Homo sapiens: one gene and its partner. The protein of the gene in region 1 interacts with the protein of each later gene in a pairwise test. Each region holds a gene or a part of one and is shown on either strand. Other genes may lie near its edges.

What was found. The genes of interacting proteins can lie anywhere in the genome.
Region 2: the proteins of TENT5D (region 1) and PABPC3 interact in binary tests that used the Homo sapiens proteins (3 or more experiments, as listed by UniProt).

The regions. Positions count from the first base shown.
Region 1 is NC_000023.11:80,437,440-80,444,468, forward strand, and holds part of TENT5D (terminal nucleotidyltransferase 5D), read left to right. Parts: intron 1-1,170; 5' UTR 1,171-1,293; intron 1,294-5,082; 5' UTR 5,083-5,100; coding exon 5,101-6,270; 3' UTR 6,271-7,029. UniProt on the Homo sapiens protein: Catalyzes the transfer of one adenosine molecule from an ATP to an mRNA poly(A) tail bearing a 3'-OH terminal group.
Region 2 is NC_000013.11:25,091,672-25,099,154, forward strand, and holds the start of PABPC3 (polyadenylate-binding protein 3), read left to right. Parts: upstream 1-4,464; 5' UTR 4,465-4,527; coding exon 4,528-6,423; 3' UTR 6,424-7,483. UniProt on the Homo sapiens protein: Binds the poly(A) tail of mRNA. May be involved in cytoplasmic regulatory processes of mRNA metabolism. Binds poly(A) with a slightly lower affinity as compared to PABPC1.

The DNA of each region.
Region 1 (7,029 bases):
CACTTCCGTGAGATGATTAACACTTTATTTTATAGTTTTTTTATTGAAGTATACTATTCAGGGTATTCTACGATCTTATTGAACACAGTATGGAAACACCAAATTGATATTATTTGATAAGCATAATCTTTTCTTCTTGATATAAGAAAATACTATTTTTTTCTGAAATAGGTATCTGTATTTTAAAGGGATAATGGTTGATTATGAGTAAATCATTGTTTAATTAAATACTGAACTGTTATTTCTCACAGACATTAATATTCTCTCTTGGAAACAAATGCAATGTGTCAAATAAAATATCTAATACCTCTTTCCAATAGTCAAATCATGTTTAATACTTCTTTAGACTGGTAAAATATAATACATTCAGACCAAAATCTTGTTGTTTGTTTGTCTATAGGTACGTATATATGGATATATAACTTGAAAGTTTCTAAAGTACAGGAATTCATTTTTATATACAATCATTTATTATAGGTAAGGGAACTAATTAGATTTAGGACCACAATACAAGCTTTAGAAAGACTTTCTACTGGCCTTAATGTCCAGCTCAGAAAACAATATTGCACTGCTGAAATGTTTTCAAAAGTTTATGGCTTAAAAGAGCATTCACTTTGATTAGAATTTTCTGTATTATTTAATGTAATGTTTTAAATTAAGTGGAAATAGCCAAAATATGAGGGACTAGGAACTGCTATTGAGACTACTTTTCCTTTACCGTTTCTTCTCAGTTTTCTTCAGTGTAGCAGTTCTTAAAGTGTCATTCCCTGACCAGCAGCATTAGCATCATCTTGGAAGTTATTAGAAATGAAGATATTCTGGCCCCACATCTGACCTGCTAAATTAGAAACTCTGGAGGTGGGACCCAGAAATCTGTGTGTTTACACACAGATAAAATGATTGCTCTAAAATAGTGGTTGTCAAATTTTAACATGCATTAGAGTTACTAACCATCTGTGTAATTCTAATGCATGTTAAACTTTGAGAACCACTATTTTAGAGCAATCATTTCATCATTTCTTCTGTGTGTATGTATGCGTCTGTGTGTGTATGTATGTATGTATGTATGTATGTATATAATTTTCAGGACTGTCGGCCATGGGGCATCATTATATTATTTGTATATAATATCTATTAAAGAACTTTATTTTTGCTTTTATTATCTTGCAGTTTTTCTGGTTGGTGTATTACTTTATTCAGTGATAATATGAAAATTACTATCTTCACTGAAGGATCTACTGAATAATCATTTTAACTCAACTATATTGCATTCTTGAAAGCAATCCTTTCAATGTAAGTATGATGTCTTTTCTCACTGTCTTTGAAAATATAGTTCTAATATTAATATAGACAGGTAAAGAGTGGCTAACTTCTTATGTTTCCCATCGTCAAAGGGAACATAGAGTTGTAATAGGGAGAACAATTACATTTTCTTTATTATACAAATATCCATTCATAGTCTTTTGTGATATCTTGACAAATTGCTTGCTTTGCTTTGCATTCCCAGATGAATTTAACCAGTTGAATAATGGAAACCACTTTGCATTGATTTTGGCATTTACTGTAGTCAGATACATTACAGGCATACTAATAGGTTAGGCTAGATGGGAAAAATGTTAGCTTAAAGGATAAGTATATTGGGAGAAGACAGGGAGCCAAACAAGATTTAAATATTCTGCAATGTGAACTACTGCTGATCTCCACATTTTGAAAACGATAATTAGAAATTTCATGTTTTGTGCTTCTATTGAGGTTTATGTGGAAAATTATTGAAGAGTTTCTGCCTTGAATTTGGAATTTTAACTTATGAAAATGTAGCTTTATAATTCATACTCAATAAACACACTTTCAGTAAATAAAAGTTGGATTGTACCCAAGACAGTATTATAAGCAATATGGGTGGCTTTGTTGCAGTTTTTCCACCTTTACCATGACATTCATCCAAAGTTTCTATTTAGCCATACTTTTTGCTTCAGAAAATTCAAATTAAGTTTCCCAACAAGTTTTCTGATGTGCTGTTTTTGATATATGGGTGATTAACTCTACTATATGCGGTTAAGTATGGAGCCATAATCTACACATTAAGATAAGTCCTATTACTTTAATGCCATATTTGAAATTTGTACTAATAACACTGCATTGATATTGTACATTATGTGAAAATGAACAGTAGCTGTGCCAAAAGGAGCATAACATTATTGTCAAATCTTGATTATTCATGTTAATAGAGGTCAGCATTTTTGGAGGCATGTATAGATTCCAGATCAGTACAAATCACTTATATTTACTCCATTGTGACATGTATTTTATTATATTTTGTGCTTATATATGTCTATATGTATACATATATATGTTTGAGTATATATGTATCACAAATTTTTATCATAATTAACGCTTTTTTCTAGGGCTAATTTTAAAAATTTGTAATTTTCATTTTCTTATGTAACAGTAGAGGTAGTTAGTGACATGGTAACTCAGAATTTGTCAGTTAGTAATGATATGGAATAAAATAGACTTGATTCCAAAAACAAGCTTTCATAGTTATGGCTAGAGAAAGGTTAAAAAAAACCTAACTGGTTATTAAAGCCTTGATTTAGACAATTGAATAATGTGTTGCTCACGCAAGGACACCGTTTCTCCACATCCTGGCAAGTTGTCATCACTGTTTCTGTAATTATTATGAAATACTAGGCCTAAACTATTTTATGTGTGTGTGTTTAAAGCTTGTAGGTAATTGAAAAGACTAGAATGTTTGGAAATCACTAGCATAGATAATTAAGTGGCAATTGGAAAGTTGCATACTGATGGACAGTTTTTCTACACCACTTTCCTGGTATAAAGTGAAGTTAAATTTTGGACCACTTTCTTATCTTTGCAAGATCTTACTGCCATTCTGTTTGGTAAACAAAATCCTATCTTCTCCCTTCTCTGATATCTAGGAGCAGATCCAAGATATTAAGTAGGGCTTCCAATTTCTTGGTTTGAAGGATATCTCTTGATCAAGGACTTCTGCATTTTGGCAATTTTTTTTTAGTTAAGTCTCTGGATGGTTTTATTTGTATATAAGTGTCCTGTCAACTTTTGTTTGGGAAAGAATTTCGTAATTTCAGTAATGTCAATATAGCAAGATAAATGTTTTCCTTTATTTTCAGATCATAGATGATTTACATGGAGACTGTAGGCCTAGGATTAGACCATTGAATTTTTTAAAATTTTTACTGATATTGACAATGGAAATTTGCCATTAAGGAAAGGAAAATATATATTTGCAAAACAAATTTGCACATGAAGAAGGAATTTTAGAACTTTTGCTGTATCATAAATTAAAATCTTAACAGTTTATATGTGATATTTAAAAAATATTTATTAGGTAAATTGTTTTTCTTCCTAAAACCTTTACATGAAGCCAGCCAGTGTTATGAACTATTCCTTTTCTAGATTGAGAATTTGAGCATAACAAACTGTTAGCTTCTAATAATTCAGTGATAATTTCAGAAGGAACTAGAAAATAAGATTACCAGTTCTCATTGCATGTTGTATCACTTCATGTAGCATCTTGCTCTTTCCAGTGTCCTAAAGATGCTATATAGATCATTTCATTCGATAGATAAATTACCAAATTCTGAAAGCCTGATATGTAATCAGTTTGGTCCATCCATCTTTAAGGATCGATTTGGATATTCACGTAGCTGATCAAACTGTATAAACATTAGTCATTAAAGTGGCTTAAAACAAGCATCCTATTTCATGGGTCATTTCATCATATAATAAAAATAAATATTCAGTCTGTAGTTCATATTTCTAGGGATTACATACAGAGAAACAGAATAGGTTTAATTTTTCCTTCTCACTAACACAGATATGCTGTTGCTTAATAGGCCTTTTGCAAAATGCATGGACTATCAAAGTAGTCCACGTAGATGTCAAATAAGATGATTATGTTTGCTCTAGTTCTACTAGGGAAATACATAATACTAAATTTCAAATATTTATATTCTGTTTTGATAGCTCCTTAGATAGGCAAAATATGAATACTGTCCACACAAATCTTAGGCTTCATATTGTTTTTTATTTCTGGAAGTCAGGAACAAATGCCTAACCCCAAAACTATGTCCATGTTGAATGTTATTTACTTTCCTAGATTTATTTGTTTAGACAACTTATTAGCGTACTTGAAGATCCATGTAATCACTGTGATTGTACATAACAACATAATTGTATCTACTTGCATTTATAGTGTTACAATATATTATAAAATGTTAACTTCCTAACATTCCCTAAACTATAAAATTATCTGAGCATATTATATTGCAAATCTGCAGTGAACATTTTTTAAAGCTTAGGAATCTTATGAGTTTATATATTCTTATTCTCATTTCAGGTACAAATTTAGTAGTCTCATCTGTTTTTCATTTTAAATTGACATTCCTTCAACTAACATTTTTTAAAGGGCTACTGGGCACATAGAAGAGGTGATAAATTAGGTACTTTCCTTATTAAGGAATTAAAGGAGCTCATACTCTAACAGAAGACTTCAGTAATATTCTTTTAAGTAAGAGCAGTTATATATGAGAAACTGAAAAGTATATGAGAGAGTGATCTGATGCTTTTGGGATTAAAGATTATATATATTGTTTGTAAACACTATGCCATTGAGTCCATTGGTTCTAACACAGAGACATGTTATCTGGTCTCACTTTACAATCATGATAATTAATCTCAATGATACATTATGGTTATCCCATGAACAAAATTTATATCACCAAAGAAATACCATCATTATAGTATTTACATGAAGCAAGATTAAAAAAGGCTACCATTTTATATCAACAGTCATTACAACTCCAGAAAATTCCTGAGAAATCTGTTTGCATTCATCAATGTATCTAACATCTTTGACATAATAATTGTGGCTTTTATTTCACTTTTATATTTAAACATGATTAAATATATTGGTAATTTCCTCCCTAGTATTATCATGGTTTATGTTGAGGGTAAGTCTATTTTTAACTTTTTCATATGCTTTAGCATTGGTTTTAAGGTGCTAACATATTTCTTCCCAATATTTTGTTTGCTGTCTAGTGATCTACTGACTTCACAATGTCTGAAATCAGATTCACCAATCTCACTTGGGATCAAGTTATAACACTGGATCAAGTGTTAGATGAAGTAATTCCAATTCATGGAAAGGGGAATTTCCCCACAATGGAGGTAAAACCAAAAGACATCATTCATGTTGTGAAAGATCAACTCATAGGGCAAGGAATTATTGTTAAAGATGCCAGATTGAATGGTTCCGTAGCAAGTTACATACTTGCAAGCCACAATGGAATCAGCTATAAGGATCTGGACGTTATTTTTGGTGTTGAGCTTCCAGGTAACGAAGAATTTCAGGTTGTTAAAGATGCAGTTCTAGACTGTCTACTTGACTTTTTACCAAAAGATGTAAAGAAGGAAAAGCTCTCCCCAGATATCATGAAAGACGCTTACGTACAGAAATTGGTCAAGGTTTGCAATGGGCATGATTGTTGGAGTCTTATCTCCCTTTCAAATAACACTGGGAAGAATTTAGAACTAAAATTTGTGAGTTCACTCAGACGGCAGTTTGAATTTAGTGTAGATTCCTTTCAAATTGTTTTGGATCCCATGTTAGACTTCTACAGTGACAAAAATGCCAAGCTAACCAAAGAATCCTATCCTGTTGTGGTAGCTGAAAGCATGTATGGAGACTTCCAGGAAGCAATGACACATTTGCAACACAAGCTCATATGTACCAGGAAACCTGAAGAGATTAGAGGTGGTGGCCTTCTGAAGTACTGCAGCTTGCTGGTTCATGGCTTCAAGCCAGCCTGTATGTCAGAAATCAAAAACCTAGAACGTTATATGTGCTCTAGATTCTTTATTGATTTTCCTCATATAGAAGAACAGCAAAAGAAAATTGAATCATACCTCCACAACCATTTCATAGGTGAAGGAATGACCAAGTATGACTACCTTATGACCTTGCATGGAGTTGTGAATGAAAGCACTGTTTGCCTCATGAGTTATGAAAGAAGACAGATTCTCCACCTGATCACCATGATGGCTTTGAAAGTACTTGGAGAACTAAATATTCTACCCAATACACAAAAGGTAACTTGCTTTTATCAGCCTGCTCCGTACTTTGCAGCTGAGGCAAGGTACCCTATTTATGTAATACCTGAGCCACCCCCCGTTAGCTTCCAGCCATACCACCCACTGCACTTTCGTGGATCAAATGGTATGAGTTAAAAAATACACATGCAACCATAGAAACTTTGATTTAATTAAACACCATTTAAAAGCAAGTTTCCAAATGTAAAATTCAAGATCTGTTTTTATTTTTGTACAGTTACCAATTATTTTCAATTACAGTTGATGGAATAGTAGTTACCAACTATTTTTGATCAATTAAGCCATCATAGTAAATACAATATCTATAAACCAACCACTTTAAATGTTTTTCAAACGTTATTGACTAGCTATAATAACTTTCAAATGTTGTGTTCCCCTTGAAGTGATTTTCAAATCTTTTGACTACTTGTGACTTTCAAATTTACTGTGACAAATATATTAGAGATGCCTGCATCTTTGACTATAACATAAAAGGACAGATTCATGTTTTAAAATTAAGATGTACAGTGAAGTATCAAATTTTTTATATTCAGTCAGTTCCTTTGTTACATTTAGTTCTTTTTTTCTATTGAACAATACCATCAATAAATGTTCAGTACTTAACAGAAATGCCTAATTTCAAAAGCAACAGATTCAGAAGACATTAAAACCCTGGACTTTTCAAGCATTTTTTTTTGACAATTAAATTGGGTTGGATACAAAAATCCTACTATAGTTTAAAGGAATACTGGAAAAAAATGGTTCTGGAAAGCCCTGGACATTAGTAATTTGTCATCTATATAATAAAACATTTAGTTAATTTGTGGATTTGAATAACAATACCATACAGCTGTGCAACTACTACTGAGATCAGATACAGGGTTTTTTGCCCCTCAA
Region 2 (7,483 bases), on another chromosome or scaffold:
GAGGTGGAGGTTGCAGTGAGCTGAGATCATGCCATTGCACTTCAGCCTGGGCAACAGAGTGAAACAAACAAACAAACAAAAAAATGAAGTGGCCAAAAATGCTTAGTTGGCCTGCCCCACTCATCCTAAGCTCAATCTTGGAAAGCCAGTGCACACAACCCCTGCCATTTTCACCACCCTCAGAGTTCCACAGAGCTCCACAGCCACCAAGGAACTGTAACTGTATCCCCTGTTCAAAAATTTAAAAACATAAAAATACATGAAAAGCAAGAAAAAATACATGTTTAAAAGAAAAACCCAGAGTGGTGAATATTAGTGTGTTATCTGAGAAATACTCCCTATCTTAGAATGAGTTCCTCATGCCCGTTAACACCCATGTTGTAAGGTGAACATTTGCTAGCCTCATCCAGACAGAATGGACCAAGAGCAGGCGTGTGTCTTTGTTGGCCAGCTTGGTTAATGAGATGAGATTAGACATGCTCCTTCTTCACCTCTTCACCAGACTCACAGACTCTGACCAATGAAAATGGTCTTAATTATGATTTTCTTTCTATTCATTGTCTGTTGGGTTCCTACCTATGCTGATTTTCACAGTCTTGAAAGTGTGTATTTTTTTAAAAACATTTTTTTAATTTCCAACTTTTATTTCAAGTTCAGGGGTACATGTGCAGGATGTGCAGGCTTGTTACATAGGTAAACGTGTGTCATAGTAGTTTGCCGCAAAGATCATCCCATCACCCAGGTATTAAGCCAGCATCCATTAGCAATTCTTCCTGATGCTCTCCCTCCTCCCCCTGCACCCTCCAGCAGACTCCAGTGTGTGTTGTTCTCCCCCTGTATGTTCATGTGTTCTCGTCATTTAGCTACCACTTACAAGTGAGAGCATGTGGTATTTGGTTTTCTGTTCCTGCGTTAGTTTGCTAAGGATAATGGTCTCCACCTTCATCCATGTCCCCATAAAGAACATGATCTCGTTTCTTTCTATGGCTGTATAGTATTCCATGGTATATATGTATCACATTTTCTTTATCCAGTCTATCATTGATGGGGATTTATGTTGATTCCATGTCTTTGCTATTGTGAACAGTGCTGCAATGAACATATGCATGCATGTATCTTTTAATAGAATGATTATATTCCTTTGGGTATATACCCAGTAATGGGATTGCTGGGTCAAATGGTATTTCTGCCTCTAGATCTTTGAGGAATCACCACACTGTCTTCCACAATGGTTGAACTAATTTACACTCCCACCAACAGTGTAAAAGTGTTTGTTTTTCTCCACAACCTCACCAGCATCTGTTGTTTTTTGATTTTTAGTAATAGTCAGTCTGACTGATGTGAGATGGTACCTCATTCTGGTTTTGATTTGCATTTCTATAGTGATCAGTGATGTTGAGCTTTTTTTCATGTTCATTGGTCACATGTATGTCTTCTTTTGAGAAGTGTCTATTCATGTTCTTTGCCCAAAAGTGTGTATTTTTGTACTTCTCTATTTGGACAAGTACAGAAGTGTCATTTTGTATGTTTCTATTTGGACAATATGTGTAGGTGCAACATTTACAACCCCACTGTACAATCTGACACCATTGTCCACAATAATATGTCAACAGGGTAGCCTGACAGCCCATATTTGAGGCTTTCCACTTTTAATTCTTTTTTAAACATAAGAATCGACTTTATTCTGCCTTATTTGTGCATAAGACTACCTTCAGTATTATCTGACGACAAACCAAAGACTAGATGTTTTCTACAGATTACCAACTCTCCAGAAGAGAAGCAGTCAAACTTATAATTGCTAAAAATCATGAAATGAAAAGGAAGCTCCACAAAAGGGAAGAGGGAAAGTGTAGGAATTAGACATGGGGATTTCCATTCCCTGTTACTCTGGAAACCATGGTGACTGAGAGCTGTGATTAAACCATATAATATGCCGATATAAACTTAGAAGAATCTGGGAAAGAAGAAATTTCTCTGGCCAGGTGTGGTGGCTCACGCCTGCAATCCCAGCACTTTGGGAAGCCGAGGTGGGTGGATTGCTTAAGCTCAGGAGTTGGAGAGCTCAGGAGTTCCAGACCAGCCTGGGCAATATGGCAAAACCCCATCTCTACCAAAAATACAAAAATTAGCTGGGTGTGGTGGCATGTGCCTCTAGTCCCAGCTACTTGGGAGGCTGAGGTGGGAGGATCTCTTAAGCCTGGGAGGTGAAGGCTGCAGTGAGCTGCGGCCACTGCACTCCAGCCTGGGCAACAGAGTGAGGCCCTGTCTTCAAAATAAAAATAATAATAATAATAAATAAATCCCTTCTATCTATTCAGTTCCTTTTCCTTCCAGACAAAATTTTTCCACACAAATCAATTTGTTTGCTAACTGCATCAGGATTTTCTCTAAACCATAATACAATCGGCAGATTAGTTGTCCAGTGGAAATAACCTTCTCCTGTATGGTCTAGGCTTGTTTTAAATGCTCTACCATCACTGGGCTTGGGATTGCAATCCTCAAAACTTCTGGGAAATCTGAAAATGAAGTTACAAATTAAATCATAGGTCTCCAAGAAGCCTGGAATTTTGATACATTCATCCCGGTTTTCTTCCACCCAAGTGTATATTCCGTGGGCTGTATCTGTGGGGAATCTGCTTTCCTGCCCATGAACACACCGAAATGGTTCTGCGAAGATGCCTTTCTCTGGAAGAGCATTTTGCTTTTGTTAATGAGGCAGAAAATCGATCTCATATTGTTGAGTAACCACACCCTTCCTAGCACTTGGTTTTTACAAGACCACATTGTTGAAATGATGGACGTGCTCCTAAAAAGCTGTGTATCAACTTCATTTTTAAACTTTTAATTGAATTTTATATTAGTGGCAACCACTATTTAAAGAAACCCTCTACTCTAGGCTAGGCGCGGCGGCTCACGCCTGTAATCCCAGAGCTTTGGCAGGCGTAGGTGGGCGGATCACCTGAGGTCAGGAATTCTAGACCAGCCTAGCCAACAAGGCGAAACCCCGTTTCTACTAAAAACAATACAAAAATTAGCCAGGCGTGGTAGTGCCTGCCTGTAATCCCAGCTATTCGGGAGGCTGAGGCGCTAGAATCCCTTGAACCCGGGAGGTGGAGGTTGCGGTGAACCAAGATCGCACCACTGCACTACAGCCTGGGTGACAGAACGAGACTCTATCTAAACAAACAAACAAACAAAAAACCCTAAAATAAATTATTTGTAACATGAACAGAATGAACAGATCCTCCCCCAAACTGATATTTTTTGTGGGACTGGACCTTTCTTAAAGGATTTTCTTAAATAGAATTATTTCAGATCATCACTTACTTAGATGTGTAGCTATATTAGGTCACAAGATTGTGTACTTATAATCATAAAACGTATACTTAATAATGAATCCCAACCTGACCTCAAAAGACTATATCATATAATACTATATTAACATTACATATTTATTGGTCGGGCACGGTGGCTTACGCCTGTAATCCCAGCACTTTGGGAGGCCGAGGTGGGTGGATCACGAGGTCAGGAGTTCAAGATCAGCCTGGCCAAGATGGTGAAACCCCGTCTCTACTAAAAATACAAAAAATTAGCCAGGCTTGGTGGTGGGTGCCTGTAATCCCAGCTACTTTAGAAGCTGAGGCAGGAGAATCGCTTGAACCTGGGAGGTGGAGGTTGCAGTGAGCCGAGATCGCACCACTGCACTCCAGCCTGGGTGACAGAGCAAAACTCCGTCTCAAAAATAAATAAGTAAAATAAAAATAAATAAATGAAAAATAAAATTACATATTTATTATGTTTTATATTGTTATATAATATAAAAAGTCGGTTTTTCGGGGTTTTTTGTTTGTTTGTTTGTTTGTTTGAGATAGTCTCGCTCTGTCACCCAGACTAGAGGGCAGTGGCGCGATCTCTGCTCACTGCAACCTCCACCTCCCGGGTTCAAGCGATTCTCGTGCCTAGGCCTCCCGAGTAGCTGGGATTACAGGTGAGCACATCAAGCCCAGCTAATTTTTTGTAATTTTAGTAGAGACGAGGTAAAAAGTAGAAAATATTTTATAAAAATATATTTGTGTAAAGTAGAACATATATAAAAACATACTAAAGGAGAAAGGAGAAAAAAATTCTTTCATTTATTTTTTTCCCAGGCATTTTAAATTTGGATTATAAAAATCATTTTAGAAAAATCATTAATGCTCTTTTACAAAATAACCCGGTGAAGCAGCTGAGCCCGAGCCGCCCGCCAGCGGCCCCGCAGCAGCTCCAAGAAGGAACTAAGAGACCAAGGCCTTCCTGCTGCCCGGACCCGACACCGCTACCCTGGCTCCCCGCCGGCAGCCGGCAGCCAGCGGCAGCGGATCGACCCCGTTCTGCGGCCGTTGAGTAGTTTTCGATTTCGGCTGATTTTTGTCCCTCTGCGCTTGCCCCCGCTCCCCTCCCTCCGGCTACGCCCCCGGCCCCGGCACGCGCTCTACTCCTGTAACGGAAAGGTCGCGGCTTGTGTGCCTGCGGGCAGCCGTGCCGAGAATGAACCCCAGCACCCCCAGCTACCCAACGGCCTCGCTCTACGTGGGGGACCTCCACCCCGACGTGACTGAGGCGATGCTCTACGAGAAGTTCAGCCCGGCAGGGCCCATCCTCTCCATCCGGATCTGCAGGGACTTGATCACCAGCGGCTCCTCCAACTACGCGTATGTGAACTTCCAGCATACGAAGGACGCGGAGCATGCTCTGGACACCATGAATTTTGATGTTATAAAGGGCAAGCCAGTACGCATCATGTGGTCTCAGCGTGATCCATCACTTCGAAAAAGTGGAGTGGGCAACATATTCGTTAAAAATCTGGATAAGTCCATTAATAATAAAGCACTGTATGATACAGTTTCTGCTTTTGGTAACATCCTTTCGTGTAACGTGGTTTGTGATGAAAATGGTTCCAAGGGTTATGGATTTGTACACTTTGAGACACACGAAGCAGCTGAAAGAGCTATTAAAAAAATGAACGGAATGCTCCTAAATGGTCGCAAAGTATTTGTTGGACAATTTAAGTCTCGTAAAGAACGAGAAGCTGAACTTGGAGCTAGGGCAAAAGAGTTCCCCAATGTTTACATCAAGAATTTTGGAGAAGACATGGATGATGAGCGCCTTAAGGATCTCTTTGGCAAGTTCGGGCCCGCCTTAAGTGTGAAAGTAATGACCGATGAAAGTGGAAAATCCAAAGGATTTGGATTTGTAAGCTTTGAAAGGCATGAAGATGCACAGAAAGCTGTAGATGAGATGAATGGAAAGGAGCTCAATGGAAAACAAATTTACGTTGGTCGAGCTCAGAAAAAAGTGGAACGGCAGACGGAACTTAAGCGCACATTTGAACAGATGAAGCAAGATAGGATCACCAGATACCAGGTTGTTAATCTTTATGTGAAAAATCTTGATGATGGTATTGATGATGAACGTCTCCGGAAAGCGTTTTCTCCATTTGGTACAATCACTAGTGCAAAGGTTATGATGGAAGGTGGTCGCAGCAAAGGGTTTGGTTTTGTATGTTTCTCCTCCCCAGAAGAAGCCACTAAAGCAGTTACAGAAATGAACGGTAGAATTGTGGCCACAAAGCCATTGTATGTAGCTTTAGCTCAGCGCAAAGAAGAGCGCCAGGCTTACCTCACTAACGAGTATATGCAGAGAATGGCAAGTGTACGAGCTGTGCCCAACCAGCGAGCACCTCCTTCAGGTTACTTCATGACAGCTGTCCCACAGACTCAGAACCATGCTGCATACTATCCTCCTAGCCAAATTGCTCGACTAAGACCAAGTCCTCGCTGGACTGCTCAGGGTGCCAGACCTCATCCATTCCAAAATAAGCCCAGTGCTATCCGCCCAGGTGCTCCTAGAGTACCATTTAGTACTATGAGACCAGCTTCTTCACAGGTTCCACGAGTCATGTCAACGCAGCGTGTTGCTAACACATCAACACAGACAGTGGGTCCACGTCCTGCAGCTGCTGCTGCTGCTGCAGCTACCCCTGCTGTGCGCACGGTTCCACGGTATAAATATGCTGCGGGAGTTCGCAATCCTCAGCAACATCGTAATGCACAGCCACAAGTTACAATGCAACAGCTTGCTGTTCATGTACAAGGTCAGGAAACTTTGACTGCCTCCAGGTTGGCATCTGCCCCTCCTCAAAAGCAAAAGCAAATGTTAGGTGAACGGCTCTTTCCTCTTATTCAAGCCATGCACCCTACTCTTGCTGGGAAAATCACTGGCATGTTGTTGGAGATTGATAATTCAGAACTTCTTTATATGCTCGAGTCTCCAGAGTCACTCCGTTCTAAGGTTGATGAAGCTGTAGCTGTACTACAAGCCCACCAAGCTAAAGAGGCTACCCAGAAAGCAGTTAACAGTGCTACCGGTGTTCCAACTGTTTAAAATTGATCAGAGACCACGAAAAGAAATTTGTGCTTCACCGAAGAAAAATATCTAAACATCGAGAAACTATGGGAAAAAAAATTGCAAAATCTAAAATAAAAAATGCAAAATCTAAAATAAAAAATGGAAAGGAAACTTTGAACCTTATGTACCGAGCAAATGCAAGGTCTAGCAAATATAATGCTAGTCCTAGATTACTTATTGATTTAAAAACAAAAAAAAGATTACTTAATTTTGATTTAAAAACAAAAAATCGTAAAATACAAAAACCAGTTAATGTTTTGTAGACCCTGGGAAAAGAATTTTCAGCAAAGTACAAAAATTTAAAGCATTCCTTTAATTTTTTAATTCTTTACTGTGGAATAGCTCAAAATGTCCATTCTGTTTTAAGTAACAGAATTGATAACTGAGCAAGGAAACATGGTTTGGATTATAAAATTCTTGCTTTAATAAAAATTTCTTAAACAGTGAAAAAAAGAAAAATCATCAATTTTACTAATAGTCTTTCTTTACATTTTCTATTATTCTATCTCCCACTATATTTCAAATATGAAAATCACTTTTTCACCAAAATTTTAGGTCTTTACATAATAGTGTTTATTTTTAATATTCATAAATGAAAATATGCAATGACAAAATAGTAATTATAAATTCAGTAACATTTGTTCAAAATTGTAAGACAATTATTAATTTATACTGCATTATTTTTAAATAAAAAATAAATACATAGTTTTAAAAATCTAATTGAACAGGAGGCTAAACATGGTTCTGATCACAGAGATAATCACTTTTAATCATTTGGTTTTAGTGTTTCTGGTAGTTGATTTTCTTCAATAATAATTGTACATAGTTATTTCTTGGTTTATCAATTTTGTAATTTAACTATTGACTTCCTGCTGTAACAAATAAGGATATGTTTCATCTACCTCTTCCCACCATCCCTCCTCCTCCTCCCAATATAATTTATCACTACTTGTAGCTCCTTTATTGGTAATATTAATTAATATAAATATTTATAATTAATGTTACACCTAGTGAATTGTATAAAAGGACAGCCCAT